Homo sapiens: one gene and its partner. The protein of the gene in region 1 interacts with the protein of each later gene in a pairwise test. Each region holds a gene or a part of one and is shown on either strand. Other genes may lie near its edges.

Evidence for each region. The genes of interacting proteins can lie anywhere in the genome.
Region 2: the proteins of ATOSB (region 1) and PICK1 interact in binary tests that used the Homo sapiens proteins (3 or more experiments, as listed by UniProt).

Annotation. Positions count from the first base shown.
Region 1 is NC_000009.12:35,105,862-35,112,880, forward strand, and holds part of ATOSB (atos homolog protein B), read right to left. Parts: intron 6,532-7,019; exon of another isoform or gene 6,469-6,531; intron 5,796-6,468; exon of another isoform or gene 5,706-5,795; intron 5,592-5,705; exon of another isoform or gene 5,408-5,591; intron 5,355-5,407; exon of another isoform or gene 3,799-5,354; intron 3,770-3,798; exon of another isoform or gene 3,344-3,769; intron 2,877-3,343; 5' UTR 2,733-2,876; intron 2,489-2,732; 5' UTR 2,414-2,488; coding exon 1,520-2,413; intron 1,031-1,519; coding exon 972-1,030; intron 783-971; coding exon 677-782; intron 550-676; coding exon 391-549; intron 149-390; coding exon 80-148; intron 1-79. UniProt on the Homo sapiens protein: Transcription regulator that may syncronize transcriptional and translational programs.
Region 2 is NC_000022.11:38,053,377-38,060,422, reverse strand, and holds the start of PICK1 (PRKCA-binding protein), read right to left. Parts: upstream 3,020-7,046; 5' UTR 2,836-3,019; intron 2,671-2,835; 5' UTR 2,614-2,670; coding exon 2,573-2,613; intron 1,190-2,572; coding exon 1,078-1,189; intron 1-1,077. UniProt on the Homo sapiens protein: Probable adapter protein that bind to and organize the subcellular localization of a variety of membrane proteins containing some PDZ recognition sequence.

The DNA.
Region 1 (7,019 bases):
GGACAGGACAGTCAAGGTTGGTAGGGCCTGAGGGCTGCTTTCCTCTCTCCCCACTCCCACTCCCTCAGGGCAAACTCACCACTTGGACGGTGCCCACCTTGGGCACGCTGTAACCCTTCCTCCCCAAGGGGTTCAGATCCACGATGCCCTGGAAGGCCAGGGAGCCATCAGTCAAGGTGGGGACTAGGAAAACCCTGGGCCCTAAACACATGTCCCTCTCCACAAGCTCTCACCCTGAACCTGCCCCTGCCCTACAGTAGAGTTCTCCTCACCTGGCCCTGACTCACTTCTAGGTGAGGAATAAGTAAGAAATACCTCTTGCCCCCTGGCCCCGCCCCCAAATCCTCATCCTCTTGATGAGCTGACTTTGGGGTTGGAGTCAAGGCATACCAGGAAGGGAGCCGGGGCATTTTGCTCAGAAACATCAAAGAATGTGACAGTGACAGGCAGCGTGACGTGCTGGGGGCAGTATGACCCACTAGCTCCAATTTCTGCTGTGAAGCCCTCAATGTGGCCAGATGGTGCAAAACGTCCTCGCAGCAATGATTCCTGGGATTAGGGTAGGGAAAACACATGAAGAGAGAGATGCCAATTCTTTTCCTTATCCATCCAAGCCACATTCCACCATCCCACCTCTCCCAGGACCCCGGCAATCACAAACCCCAACGGGAGCTACCTCAAAGTTGCCCAGCAGGGTACGGCTGACAGCAGGGGTAGGAACAGGGGAGGCACTGGGGGGGCTCAGCAGGCCTGGCCCCTTCCGGAGGCTTCGAAGGGGGCTCCTGGTAGAGGAAGGGAAACACAGGGGGTTGGCTTGAGGTATTCTGGGATTCCTGCTTATGCCCTTGGACTCCACCCTCTGCCACTATGTAGGGCTTCTGCCCTGGGGTCCCCTACTCGGATGCTGGAAAGAGTACAGACTTCTGCCCCCATTCTCAGGGACAGGGTAGAGGAAAAAGCTGGTCACTTACAGCTTCAGGCGACGGGCTCCTTTCAGCCTCCGCCCCATGGGACCGCAGTCTGTTGGGTCCTACGGAGAGAAATGATTGGGAAAAGACACAGGGTGAAGGCCATGTATGTTTTGGGGCAGAAGCTCATCACAAACTCTCAAAGGAACACCCTGCCCCCCAGGCCTCCACCTTTACCCACACAAATATCCACTTAAGAGTACATGAAGGACAGGCGCAGTGGCTTGAGCGCCTGTAATCACAACACTTTAGAAGGCCAAGGTGGGTCGATGATTTGAGCTCAGGAGTTCGAGACCAGCTTGGGCAACATGGCGAAACCCCATTTCTACCAAAAATACCAAAAATTAGCTGGGTGCAATGTCATGTGCCTGTGGTCCCAGATACTTGGGAGGCTGAGGTTGGAGGATCCCTTGAGCCTGGGAGGAGGAGGTTGCAGTCAGCTGAGATTGTGCCACTGCACTCCAGCAGTGATGGAGTGAGATCCCATCTCAAAAAAAAAAAAAAAAAAAAAAAAGTAAAAAAAGAGTAAATGAGGTCCTTTATTGGCTTACCAAAACAGGCTCTTTGGGCCCAGGCAGCAGGTGGCTCCAGAAGGGTGTGGCTTTGGCATCAGAACTGTTGGCAGCAGTAGGGTGGCCCAGGGATCCCCGGCGCCTCCGAGGGGCTGGCCCCTCTTCCTCAGAGCTGACATCTGGGGCTTCTCCAGCAGGAAGCAGCCTTCGCTTGGTGGGGCAGGGGCCTGGGGGTCCAGGGCCAGGGGGTGTGTGCTCGGGACTGTGCCCATTGGCAGTGCCAGGGGACTCCCTAGGCCAGAGGCTACCCCCATTGCCCACCCCAGCCACTGGGCTCTTACCCCCTATTTGTGCAAGACTGTGCAAATCAGTGTCAAGTGTGTGCAGCTGGCCTGGAGGGGCTGGCCCTGGGGACTCCCCCAGGGACCCCTGTCCCCCTGGATCTGGGGAGGCCCAGTCTCTGGTGTGCAAAGTATTGCAGGAAGCATTTGATGGGGGGCAGGGGGGACTCCAGGCCCCCGAAGTCCAAGATGAGGTGACACTACTTCTCTGTTCCACAACACAGAGGCCACGGTGGGAGAAATGCTGGCTGGCCACACCTAGTCCCAGCCCCGGTCCCTCTGGGCCTAAGAGCCCCACAGTAGATGGTTCTTCAGGGGGTAGTCCCTCTCTGGCCCCCAGCCCAGGGCCTCTCTTCAGCTCCCGGGGACCCTCAGTGGATGGGGCTTGTCGTTTCAGGGCCCTATGAGGCTCAGAGGTACCAGCCGGAGGGGAAAAGATGGATACCTGGTAGACCCCGGGGGATGTCGCCCCCCCTGCTGGGCTGTAGCCCATGAGCAGGCCACCCTGGAGGGCCCCCTGCCTGACTGGAGGCTGTGAAGGGCCAGCCTCCGGCTCTGAGGATGGAGACGGCTCCGCCTGCACGTGGCGCATGAAGCCCCCCTTGGGTCAGGGGGGCCCCCCAACACGGCCTTTATGCTGGGCCTGGGCTGGGGGGCCTGGGGACATCTGTGTAAGAGAAGAGAAGAAAAGGTGGTCAGGGGAATCAATGAGTCTTCTTCCTTCCAGCTGAGTTTCAGACCCTCTCCTTGCCTAAAGGGGTGACTTTGATGGGTTCCCAAGGATGAATGTGTACAAATCCCTGGATGGACTAATGGAATATAGAGACCACTCTCAGAACTCCTGAGAGGGTGACAGGTTTAGCTCAGGCTTCTTACTGGACACACTTCCCCCTCTTCTCCCTGGTACTTACCCCGATGAAGAGGCCTCAAGCCTAGCTGTGCGTCCCCTCTTCCCAACTGATGCCTCGTGCCCCTAGCTTGCAGTCTGATCCATGCCTGCTGCACTGGCAAGGTGACTGCCACCATTCCGTGCAGCTCCTGAGCTCAGCAGGACCCTGAGGAGAGAAGAACAGACGTAAGCCAGGATCACTGGAGCCAGCGGTAAGGCCTGTCACCAATTATAGGCTAATAGTACACTCCAGGACATCCTTCTCCCATGTGAGAGGCTCTTCAGGAACAGAAAGGGTAGGCTTGGGGTCCAGGGCACAGATGGCAGAGTTGGGCTACCTAAGGAGTCAAAGAGGCAGGTCTTGGCTCAGTATAATAAGGATGTGACAAGTGAGTTGAGGTAGAATAACTACTTGTCAGGGCCACCATTTGAGGACTCCTGCCCTACATGGAGGAAGGGATGAGAGACCCCCAAGATCCAAGAGACCGTGTCAGCTGAGAGGCGGCCAGGGGAAGAATTCAGCTTTCTTACTCAAAGCCACCAAATTGCACAACTCCTTCTTATATGTCTATCTCCAAAGGGACAAGTGCCATCCTAGGGCACTAAGGGCAGAGGTCTCCCACACAGTTATACCCCATCAGCGGTCCTCAGAGGTACAAATTTCAAGTCAGCTCAGAGCTGGCCTTTCAGCCCTGAACTCCAAATTGCCTCCAGCAGCCTGTCTCTTTAACAAGAGGCAACAAATCCGACCAAAAACAAGAAGGGGAAGGGGAAGGGGTCACTGCCAGAAGGCACTTTCCAGGGCCCTCCCGCAAGGCCCTGCAAACTAGAGATAAGGCCGCAGCAGTCAGTCAGCTGGAAGCAACTAGGGAGTACCTCTCCACGCCCCTCCCCCAGTGCTCACACACCCAACACCAAAACCCCAAACCACGGGTGCATAAGATGGTCTTCACTAACTATTCCAGCCCATACTAGGGTGAGGGGAATGTCAAGTTGAAAGCCAGCTGCCCCCAGGGTCAGCCTTCTCTTTTGCTGTCTGACATTCACGGTGCTCTTTCCCCTTCAAGAAGTGCCCTTTGAATGCCTACCCAAGACTTTTCCTCCTTGGATAGGTCAAATGCCATCTCCTCCAGAAAGTCTGCTCTGTCCACCCCAGACCATAAGCATCTCTCCCTTCTCTGAGACCTCACCTATGGCAGTGTTACTACTTCCTGTAAGCTCACTAACAGTTCTGCTCACTCCTGTGGGTAAGGCATCTTCTAGACCGACCATAGAGTTCCTGAGGACAGATCTGTGTCCCACCCCTCCATCCAACCCCAAGTACAGGGGTAAGCACACAGCAGGGCTCAAAAAAAGTAGAATGCAAGTCCCAGACATCTGAGCAGCAGTCCTGAGAGTGGAGAGAAAAATTTCCCAGATGAGAGAAGCAGAGAGATTAATTGTACAAGGGAAAATCAGGAACAGAGGTGGGGGTGGGGAGCAGGCAGAAAGGAGAGATTTGTACCCAGGGACTGAAAAGCTCTCCTACACCAAGTTCCCATCATTGTACCCCACTATCCCATTTCACCAAATTCTCCTAAGAATTGGGATCCCTAAGAAAATCCTGGTTCCCTGTGGTGGGCGGGATGGCTGGAAAGGGCAGAACACCAATCGCAACCTGCACTATCCTACCTGCAACCAACCTTGTCAGAAGGTACAACCTGCACTAATTTCTACCCTTCTTTCCTCCACCCAAGCCATACAGATTCAGGAGGGGCCTTTTCCCTAGCACCACCACTTCCAGGTCATCCCAGTTGCCCTCTTGACCCCTTGCCCTGGGGAAGCCAGGGGATGACATGATGCCCTACTTGACCCCAGCATACCTGGCATCTGCTTATTAACCCCAGAGCCCTCTCAGTTCCCACCCTGTCAACAAGACGCTCTATATTCACTCCCCTGCCACCCAGCCAGTCTGGCTCTAGACCATGGCTTCAAGCTGACTCATGGGGCAGGACTGCAGGGGAGGGGGGCAGGGCAGAGTAGGCCAAGCCTCACTCTTCGTTCAGGGGGTGGGCAGCAGCTGGCATCAAACAGCTGTGCCAGGCTGTGGCTGGCAAGGACTACAGCTCCCAACATGCTGAGGGAGCAAGGCCAGCAAAAACAACAAGTCCCAGAATACGTCTGTACCTTTAGACACTTTTGAGGCCTGGGAGGTGGGTGAGGTGGGTATTGGTATAGGTATCAGCTTCAAGGCTCATTCTCCCCTTCCCTTCAGTATTAAAGATTTCCATTTCTACCATGATCAAGGAGAGTGACAGGATGAATTCCTATCCATGTGCTTTCCACCCTCATCCTATGCAAAGAGAACTGCTGCCAGCTGCTCTCTATTTTGTCCCTACATACATCCACACAAGCTAGGGGGGCTGTTCCCACGGACCACCACTGTGGGTAGGAAGGTCGACTTCTTCTCTCTTACCAACCCCTCGGCCCCCAGCCTAGAGCCCTCTATCTTCAGAGGGGAGAGAGCAGACCTTAGCAGACTCTCTAAACTAAGCCAGGCAGACTCACCTGACTCCTGGACTCCTTCTTCTGGACGATCCCTTACCCCCTGCCCAGCCTCCCAGGTCCCTTCTCACTCCTCTCCTCCCCACAGCCTGGGACAGGCCCCATACTATACTGGAGCTTCGGAGATTTGCTCTTTCCCTCTAGCACACTCACCCCGCTCCCAAATTGGCTCCGCGGAGGTGGCCGCTGCTCCGGGCCCTTCCGTCCCGTCCCGTCCCGGTCCCTCCCCTTGGTTCCCCGGTCCTCCCTGCCACGGGCCCCCAACCCAGACAAAGGGTGGCTCAGGCTGAGCCCTGCTCTGCTAGGCTCTTCGCTGTTCAGCTTCGTGTGCAACACTAGCGGGCCCTGGCGCCCGCAGCCCCCCAGCCGCTGCCGCGCCCCTCCCTGCGACGGTCCCTCCCCGGGGCCGCCCCGGCTCCGCGCCGCCGACTCCACTGCCCCTCTGACTCACAGGCCATTTCCTACCAGCTGATGGGGCCGCCCGCCCCGCCCAGTGCCCCACCACCCGCGCCGCGGCGGCCACGGCCGCCACGCCCCCCTCAGGCTACGCCCTCCCTGGAAAGCGACCATGCTCATTGGTCCATAGGAAGCCAGCCTCCCCGCGACCTCAAGTGCGAGGCACGCCCCCTCCAAGAGGCACACGCCTATTGGTCCATAAGGGGGTAGGCTTACCCAAGGTCGCTCCGCCCTTCTCCTTAACCCGACAGCTGCCGGAGTCCAAAGCAACACCCTGCCCTGCCATTTAACCCTTTCAAAGGCGTAGGCCTTCCACATCTTACCCCTCCGCCCTACTCCCCCGCCCTTCCTCCTTCCAGGACGGTTAATAGGAAGCCCGAGGGCTTTAAAGATACGGTTTGACAACCCTCAAAGTCTGCCTGCTGTCTATACCAGACCCCAGACCCCAAATACCTCACTCCCATTTGTCTTTCCCCACCTTCCAAACCAAAGCTTCAGAGCTGGAGAACTAGTGAAGCCCAGGAAGCTTCCTCCATGCCAGAGAAGAAAAAGGCCTGAGGTGGGACCCTATCTCCTTCCATGTTAAGAAGTGGTACTTTTCCCTCTGTTACTCTTAAATTGATGTTCTTTTGCCTTCTTTAGAGGAGCCCCACGGGTTCCTAAGATAGGGATACATTTTAATCTCAGGGACCAGCATTATTCTTTGTGCCTCTGAACTCCCTTTCTGAGATCAGCCTGCCAGCACTCTTTCTACTCACAGGCCCATGTTCAAGGAGACAGAGCATACAGGGAAGTGGGATAGGAGAGCTTCTGCCCAGAATGGGGGAAATGAGCCCAACTCTTGTGATGGAGCTCAACCCCATGACTCACAGCTCCCTCAAAACTATCCACCCTCCCACTGAGTCACTGGGCCCCAGCCCAGTTCAGACCCAGTCAAATCAAATGGCAGCAGAACCGGCATCCCTAACCCTTGTCCTCCTATTCTTTAAATGACCAGGATGGAAACCTTTGCAAGGATTGAGCATTCAAAGACACTTTCTAGAGGGTACTCTAGAGGTAAACTAAGAAAAGCAATAGTCCTGTCTACCCTGCCCTCTGCACTTGTCAGCAAGTCGGATAATTTGGGACTTAGGAGGCTTTTTCTCCCGGTCCTTCACAGAAGCAGGAGGCAAACACCAGAGCCAAAGAGGGAAAGTCCATTCTTCTACAGTTCAGAGGCCACAGAGAGCCCAAGGTCCTTGTTTCTGCCTTGCCTGTGCTGTGGACCCCCCAGGGCCCTGAGGTTATATCACTAGATAGTAAAAAGAGG
Region 2 (7,046 bases), on another chromosome or scaffold:
TTGGATGAGCCACACAGTGAAGGAGGCCCCACAGCAGGCCTGTCACCACTCCTGAGTTACAGTGGACAGAATATCACCAGTGCAGCTTCCTCTGCAAGAGACACAAGAGTGTTCCTCACCACTGGCAGAGCATCTGGGAAAATGTACAGCTACCTGGAAAATAGCAGCAGCTACTGCTTAATGCATGGTTCTTTCTTTTTTTTGAAACAGGGTCTCACTCGGTCACCCAGGCTGGAATGCACGGAATGCAGTGGCGTGATCTCAGCTCACTGCAACCTCTACTTTCCAGGTTCAAGCGATTCTCCTACTTCAGCCTCCCAAGTAGCTGGAAGTACAGGCGTGCACCACCACGCCCAGCTAATTTTTGTATTTTAGTAGAGACGGGGTTTCACCATGTTGGCCAGGCTGGTCTCGAACTCCTGACCTCGTGATCCACCCACCTCGGCCTCCCAAAGTGCTGGGATTACAGGTGTGAGCCACTATGCCTGGCCAATGCACGTTTCTTAACTTCTAGTGTGTTAGGTCGTTTTGTTGACTTCTCACAAGAACCCAGAGATGATTGTGTCTACATGTTTTAAATCCCCGCTTTCTAGGTGATGAAACTGAGGCCCAAAGAGGTTAAGTAACTTGCTAGTAAGTAGGAAAGAAGCTTGCATTTGAACTCAGGCCATTATTTCATCGTGTTCCTATGACACTTCATTTTGGCTAGTACGCAAGGCTGATGGTTTTGTTGATTCAATAGTCAATTTCTATTGCATGTCCACTATGTGCCAGGCACTGTACCTGGTGCTTACTGCAGTGAAAAAGCAAACCAGGACACTGCCCTCAGTGCAAAGAGTCTACTCTACTAGACAGAGGGCAAATAACAAGTAATAAGTGCCGAGAAGGAAAAAAACAGAGCGACACAGGGGAGAAGACAGGGCAGAGCAACGCAGCGCAGGTGGTCAGAAAGCCCCTCTGAGAGGGTCAGACCTCAAGAATGAGAAGGAGTCAGCTATGCAGTGTGGAGAAATGAACCTGCCTTTGTCATGCCCAAGTAGGGATGTACCTTGTGCCCCCCTCCAAAGCGCCCAATACCTGGACGATATAGAGGCAGGGACAGTACTGGGCCCCTCCTCCAATGCTGATCCCGATCAGGTTCTGAGCATCCTTCTGCAGGGTCACCTTCCCAGGCACAGTCGGGATTCCGCTAGAAAGGAAAGCAAGCTAGGCTGACTCTCCTGGCAGAAGGATGACTGGAGCGGGTGGGCCCTCTAAAACTCCTGAGGGGCTCCACTGGCTGCCCAGCTTTTTCTCTCCCTCCCTTGGACAAAACAACATTTTGTGCTGGAACATGCACAGCTCTTGGAGTTAAGCAGATGTGGGATCAAACCCCAGCTCTGCCATTTATCAGCTGTGGAACTTGGTTTTTTTTTGAGATGGAGTCTTACTCTTGTTGCCCAGGCTAGAGTGCAATGGCGCAATCTCGGCTCACTGCAACCTCCGCCTCCCGGGTTCAAGTGATTCTCCTGCCTCAGTCGCCCAAGTAGCTGGGACTACAGGTGCCTGCCACCACGCCTGGCTGATTTTTTTGTATTTTTAGTAGAGACGGGGTTTCACCATGTTGGCCAGGCTGGTCTTGAACTCCTGACCTCAGTTGATCCGCCTGCCTCAGCCTCCCAAAGTGCTGGGATTACAGGCGTGAGCCACCGTGCCTGGCCAGCTATGGGACTTGGGTAAGTCAGCCTCTGTGCATCTCAATTTCCTCATCCATAAAATGTGGATGAGCACCCTTATCAGAGTTCTTCTAACCATGCATGGAGGGCACTAACAGCAACCCAGTCCATAGCAGGCACTCCATAAAAATAGGTCCCCCTTCCCTTTCATTTATTCGATCTCTGAGATTTGAGCCAGGTTCTGTCCTTGTCACCTTATCAGGCATCTATGTAGTATGATGGCCACCTACTCCAGGGAGTCTTCCTCTATTAAACTGTCCACCTCCCACCTCTCAACTGCTCGATTACCTCTCGGTTTCCACTATAAATTAGCATTGACTGGTGTTTTATGATAAGTACTCACGCTGATTCACTTATTCATTCAAAAAACATTCGCTAACAACCTACTGACGTCAAGTCCCTTACTAAGTGCTGAGCATAGAGAAAGGCATTGCACCCACTCCTTGATCTGAAAGAGGATATATTCTAATGGGAAAATCTGTCCTACTAACAACCTATGTTGGGAAGGAAGGGTGTCTACAATATTCCTATTCAACCTTCAAAACCTGGTTCAATTGCTACGTCCTCCATGAAGCTTTCCTTGACCATCCCAGCAGAAGCACTGCTCCATCTGCTTTGCTCTTCTTGTCACCAAGTCATGCTAATAGTGCCCTTATGGCACTGAGCTGTGATTATCCCTTTAACTGTCCACAGCCCCCTACAAATAGTGAGCTCCTGGGAGAGCAGGGTCCATTGCTGCTTCAGTACAACAACTGATCCACCGCTGAGAAGCAAGGGTCTGTGGGACTGGGAAGTCCAGGGAAATGAGGAACTTGGGGCTCCTATACTGCTGGAACTTGGGGGAATAAAATACTCACAGTTTATCCTCTTCGATGTCATAATCCAAGTCTGCAAACATGGTTCCGAGAGTTGGAGTGGGCTGGCTAACTGCCCAGCTCGGTAGGGGAATGGGGAACTGGATCCGGGAGAGAAAGGAGCATAGGATTTAAGGAACCCAAGTGCCTAAATGCCAACGCCACCCCTCCCTCCACCACCTCATACGGGACAGCAGTGCCCTCCTCTTCCCTCTGGAGTGGGATGGGACAGTCTCCGGGTGGGGGGCTGGGTAGGTGATTCTTACTAGGTACAAAGGGGGGCTCCAGGCCAGGGCGATAGGCTCAGATCCCAGAGTCCGCCCCACGGGTCTCCAGGCCCTGGGGAGCTGCCTCTGTCGCTCACCGGAAGCGTTGGTCCCACAGCCGGGTCCCGGCCAGGCTGGTACCTGAACCCACCTGCCGTTCCACCTGGCGGTGGCCGCGATTGTCACGTCACTTCCGGCAAGACGCGGAAGTCCCGGCTTTCCCCCCACTGGATATTTGCTCCAATCCCTGCAGACAATCCTTCCCTTCCCGGCTCCCGGGACGCTCGGAACCAAGAACGAGAACAAGTATTGGCGGAAGCTCGCTGTTAGTAGGAACAAGCGAAAACAGAGGAACGGTCTGGACAGGCTGACAGCGTCTAACCCCGCCCTTTGCCCTGCCGCCGCCGCCATCTTGGGAAGGGCAGGGTTTGTCCCAGCTTCCTCAGCTGCACTCAGGGGCCCGCGCCGGCCCGGCGGTTGCCATGGCAACGAAAGCATCCCTGAGCCGGGGTTACCTCCGGCGAGGCTCAGTGGACTATAAACCCCAAGACATCATGCCCTTTCACCCCTTCACCACCTGGGCCTGTGACTCCCCTACTAGAATGGCCCTTTGAGGTCCCAGCCCATCCCAGTTTCGCCAACTTAAGTGCCAAAGAGCGGGGAGTGATTTTGTGCGGGGCCACACACAGTTGGTGTAAGATCTGGATCGTGGCCCTGAAACTCCCGCCGCCTAGTCTAGGGATCTTTGAACGTCCAAACACTAAACAGAGAGCCAGGAGAGGTGTATTCAGTGGGTCTTGCTATTAAGGACAGACTGGACATGCTCCCTTCCCTTTATGTGCCTCAGTTTCCCCATATGTAAACCAAGGCCATTGAGGTAAATGCTTTCTATGGTATATGGTGAAAGGTTTCTCACACCCCCTCCTCCTTCCTTAGTCCTGAGGAGCAGCCCCCCTGGGGTCCCAGGGAGGGTCACGGTCCGCATGTACCTGAGGCTCGGGAAATGCTATCAGTGCTCCCCAGAGTCCGAATCTTGTCTCCTCGCCAGCCTCTGCTGCCACTGCTATTGTGTAAAGTGGGTTCCCTGGGGGAGGTTGGCTCTCCCAGAGCCACAGCCAGGCATCCACCTCATCCGGCAGCATGGGGCCAGGCCCATCCAGCTTGCTTCCCCAGCTGCCCCAGGAGCCATGGAAGAAAGATACAGAAGGATGATTATCCACATATCCCACGGCCGGTGGAAGCCCCGCCCTACTCTCTCCTTAGGTGGCTAATTGAGTCCGGACAGATGTGCAGAATGCCGTGACAATAACAGCCTTCCCACGTGTCCACTGCTCTCCTGTGAGATCACTTTCACAGGATTTGAAAGCTCACCACCACCCTGTGAGAGAAGACCAAATCTTGCCAGCCACATTGTGCAGGCAAGGAAACGGAGGCCCTGGGAAGCCTCTTCCTCTGGTATCATAGCGGCAGGGCTGGGGCTGGGAAAACCAAGCTCTGTTTCCAGGCCAGAATTTTGGTTTCAAAAAGCAGCAGTCTAAGGCCAGGTGCGGTGGCGCACACCTGTAATTCCAGCTATTTGGGAGCCTGAGGCAGGAGAATCGCTTGAAAATAGGAGAGGGAGGTTGTAGTGAGCCGAGATCAGGCCATTGCACTCCAGCCTGGGCGACAGAGAGAGACTCCGTTTCAAAAAAAAAAAAGGCAGCAGTCTCCAAACCCAGGTGCCTTAACATGGATTGTGGCTCTTCCAGCCCATGACCATGCTAGCTCAGGCCCAGGCTCTGCCATTTTGTAGCTGGGAGATCTTGGGTGAGTCGCTGTCTCACTCTGAGCCTCAGGTACGTGTAGAATGGGGAAATGACACCTGCCACCAGGTATTTGTGAAAGTCAAGATTAAAAGGAGAGGCTGGGCGCGGTGGCTCACGCCTGTAATCCCAGCACTTTGGGAGGCTGAGGAGTGTGGATCATGAGATCAGGAGTTGGTATAAGATCTAGATCATATATCTGGACCAGCCTGGCCAACATGGTGAAACCCCGTCTCTACTAAAAATGCAAAAATTAGCCAGGCATGGTGGTATGCACCTGTAATCCCAGCTACTCAGGAGACTGAGGCAGGAGAATCGCTTGGACCCGGGTGGCGGAGATTGCAGTGAACCGAGATCGCGCCATTGCATGCCAGCCTGGGTGACAGAGCCAGACTCCATCTCAGAAACAAAAGATTAAAAGGAGAAACAGGTGTGAGTGCTTTGTAAACAATTTGCATGGCACAGCTGTCACTCTGACCTCAAAACCCCCTACCCACTCTGGCCCTTCTTCTCAGGTTGGGGAAGATGCCCCTGTTTTCTGCCTTGTTCATCCCTTGCCTGCAGGCTCCGCTCTAATTCACCTCTTCCCGGCAGCCTTAGCAGACAATCTCAGCTCATATATCTTGCTCCCTTTTCTGAGCTGAGCTCCTGAGCAGTTGCTATTTGAATCATTTGTTCAGCAATTTGCTGTGTATTTGCCTTGTGAAATCTCTTCATGGTTTTCCTGAGCCAATTCTGCAGTGATTAATTTATTACATGCTTGTATTTTGTCTGGCAAGGTTTTTATCCCCTTTAAATTTGGGGCTTACAGCTCATAGCTACGCCTGGCTAATTTTTGCAATTTTTTTCTTTTCTTTTCTTTTCTTTCTTTCTTTTTTTTTTTCTTTGAGATGGAGTCTCCCTCTTGTCGCCCAGGCTGGAGTTAAGTGGTGCGATCTCAGCTCACTGCAACTTCTGCCTCCCGGGTTCAGGCGATTCTCCTGCCCCAGCCTCCTGAGTAGCTGGGATTACAGGCGCCCACCACCATGCCCGGCTAATTTTTTGTATTTTTAGTAGAGACGGGGTTTCACCATGTTGATCAAGCTGGTCTCGAACTCCTGACCTCAGATGATCCACCCACCTCAGCCTCCCAAAGTGCTAGGATTACAGTTGTGAGCCACTGCACCTGGCCTTTTTCTCAACTTACTTTCTAATCTCTGGCACCCCCATCTTCCATAGTATACTTAGAATCCATCAACAGGTGTCATTGTGACAGACAAGAAAAAGGAAATCAGATTGCTTTGTAATACTGTTGGTGTGAAAATGTCACAACCTGCTTAGCTTTTTTAGCAGAGGGGGTCACTGGAATCAGCCCACACAGCAGAGGAACATGTCCCAGTCAATTGAGGGGGTCTGGTTGGGACCAGGAATCTATTTGAGGGAAAAGAAAGTTCAAGTACCTTATTCTATCACCCAAGTAAGCACTTCTTGTTTTTCCAGCTGGACAGGAAGCCCCTGGTTCGGGGCCAGGTGCTCTGTTTTGCCCTTCTCTGAATTGGCCACGATGTCCAGCGCAATACCTGGCTGCAAATCTGGTGCTTGCAGAAATCGCTGCGGCTTTAGTATGAGATGAAACTTTCTCTGGATCCAGGAGGAGAGGACTTGCATGAGCAGAGGGGGTCAAGAGGGTTGGGTGTCTCAGGGAAGAGATGAGGAGGGCCTCAACAGGGACAGTGGCAGTGGCCTGAGTTTCCTCCACAGGGCTGGAATCACCAGGCCGTGTCTAGGTCCTGAATTTTGGTTTTGGAAAAACAGCATCCTTCAAACCCAACAGCTGTAACAGAGATTGGAGCTCCCCTAGCCCAGGGTGGCTCCAGCTCAAATCCCAGCTCCACTCTTTTAGCTGGAGGACCTTGGACATGTCACCCTTTGTCTCTGAGCCTTGGTGTCTGTGGAGTGAGGATGATGATCCTCCCAAGACAGTGGTTAAAAAGAGGAAGACAGGCTGGGCGCAGTGGCTCTCGCCTGTAATCCCAGCACTTTGGGAGGCCGAGGCAGGTGGATAACCTGAGGTCAGGAGTTCAAGACCAACCTGGCCAACATGGCGAAACCCCGTCTCTACTAAAAATACAAAAAATTAGCCGGGCGTGGTGGCACACGCCTATAGTCCAAGCTACTTGGGAGGCTGAGGCATGAAAATTGCTTGAATGCGGGAGGCAGAGGTTGGAGTGAGCCGAGATTGCACCACTGCACTCCAGCCTGGGCAACAGAGTGAGACTCCGTCTCAAAAAAATAGATAAATAAATAAATTAATTAATTAAAAGGGGAAGACAAAAAAGGAGAACCAGGTGTGAAAGTGTTTTGCGAGTGATTCACAGAGCACAGATGTCAGAGGTTTTTATCGTCCTTCTGTTTATAGCTATTTTGCTG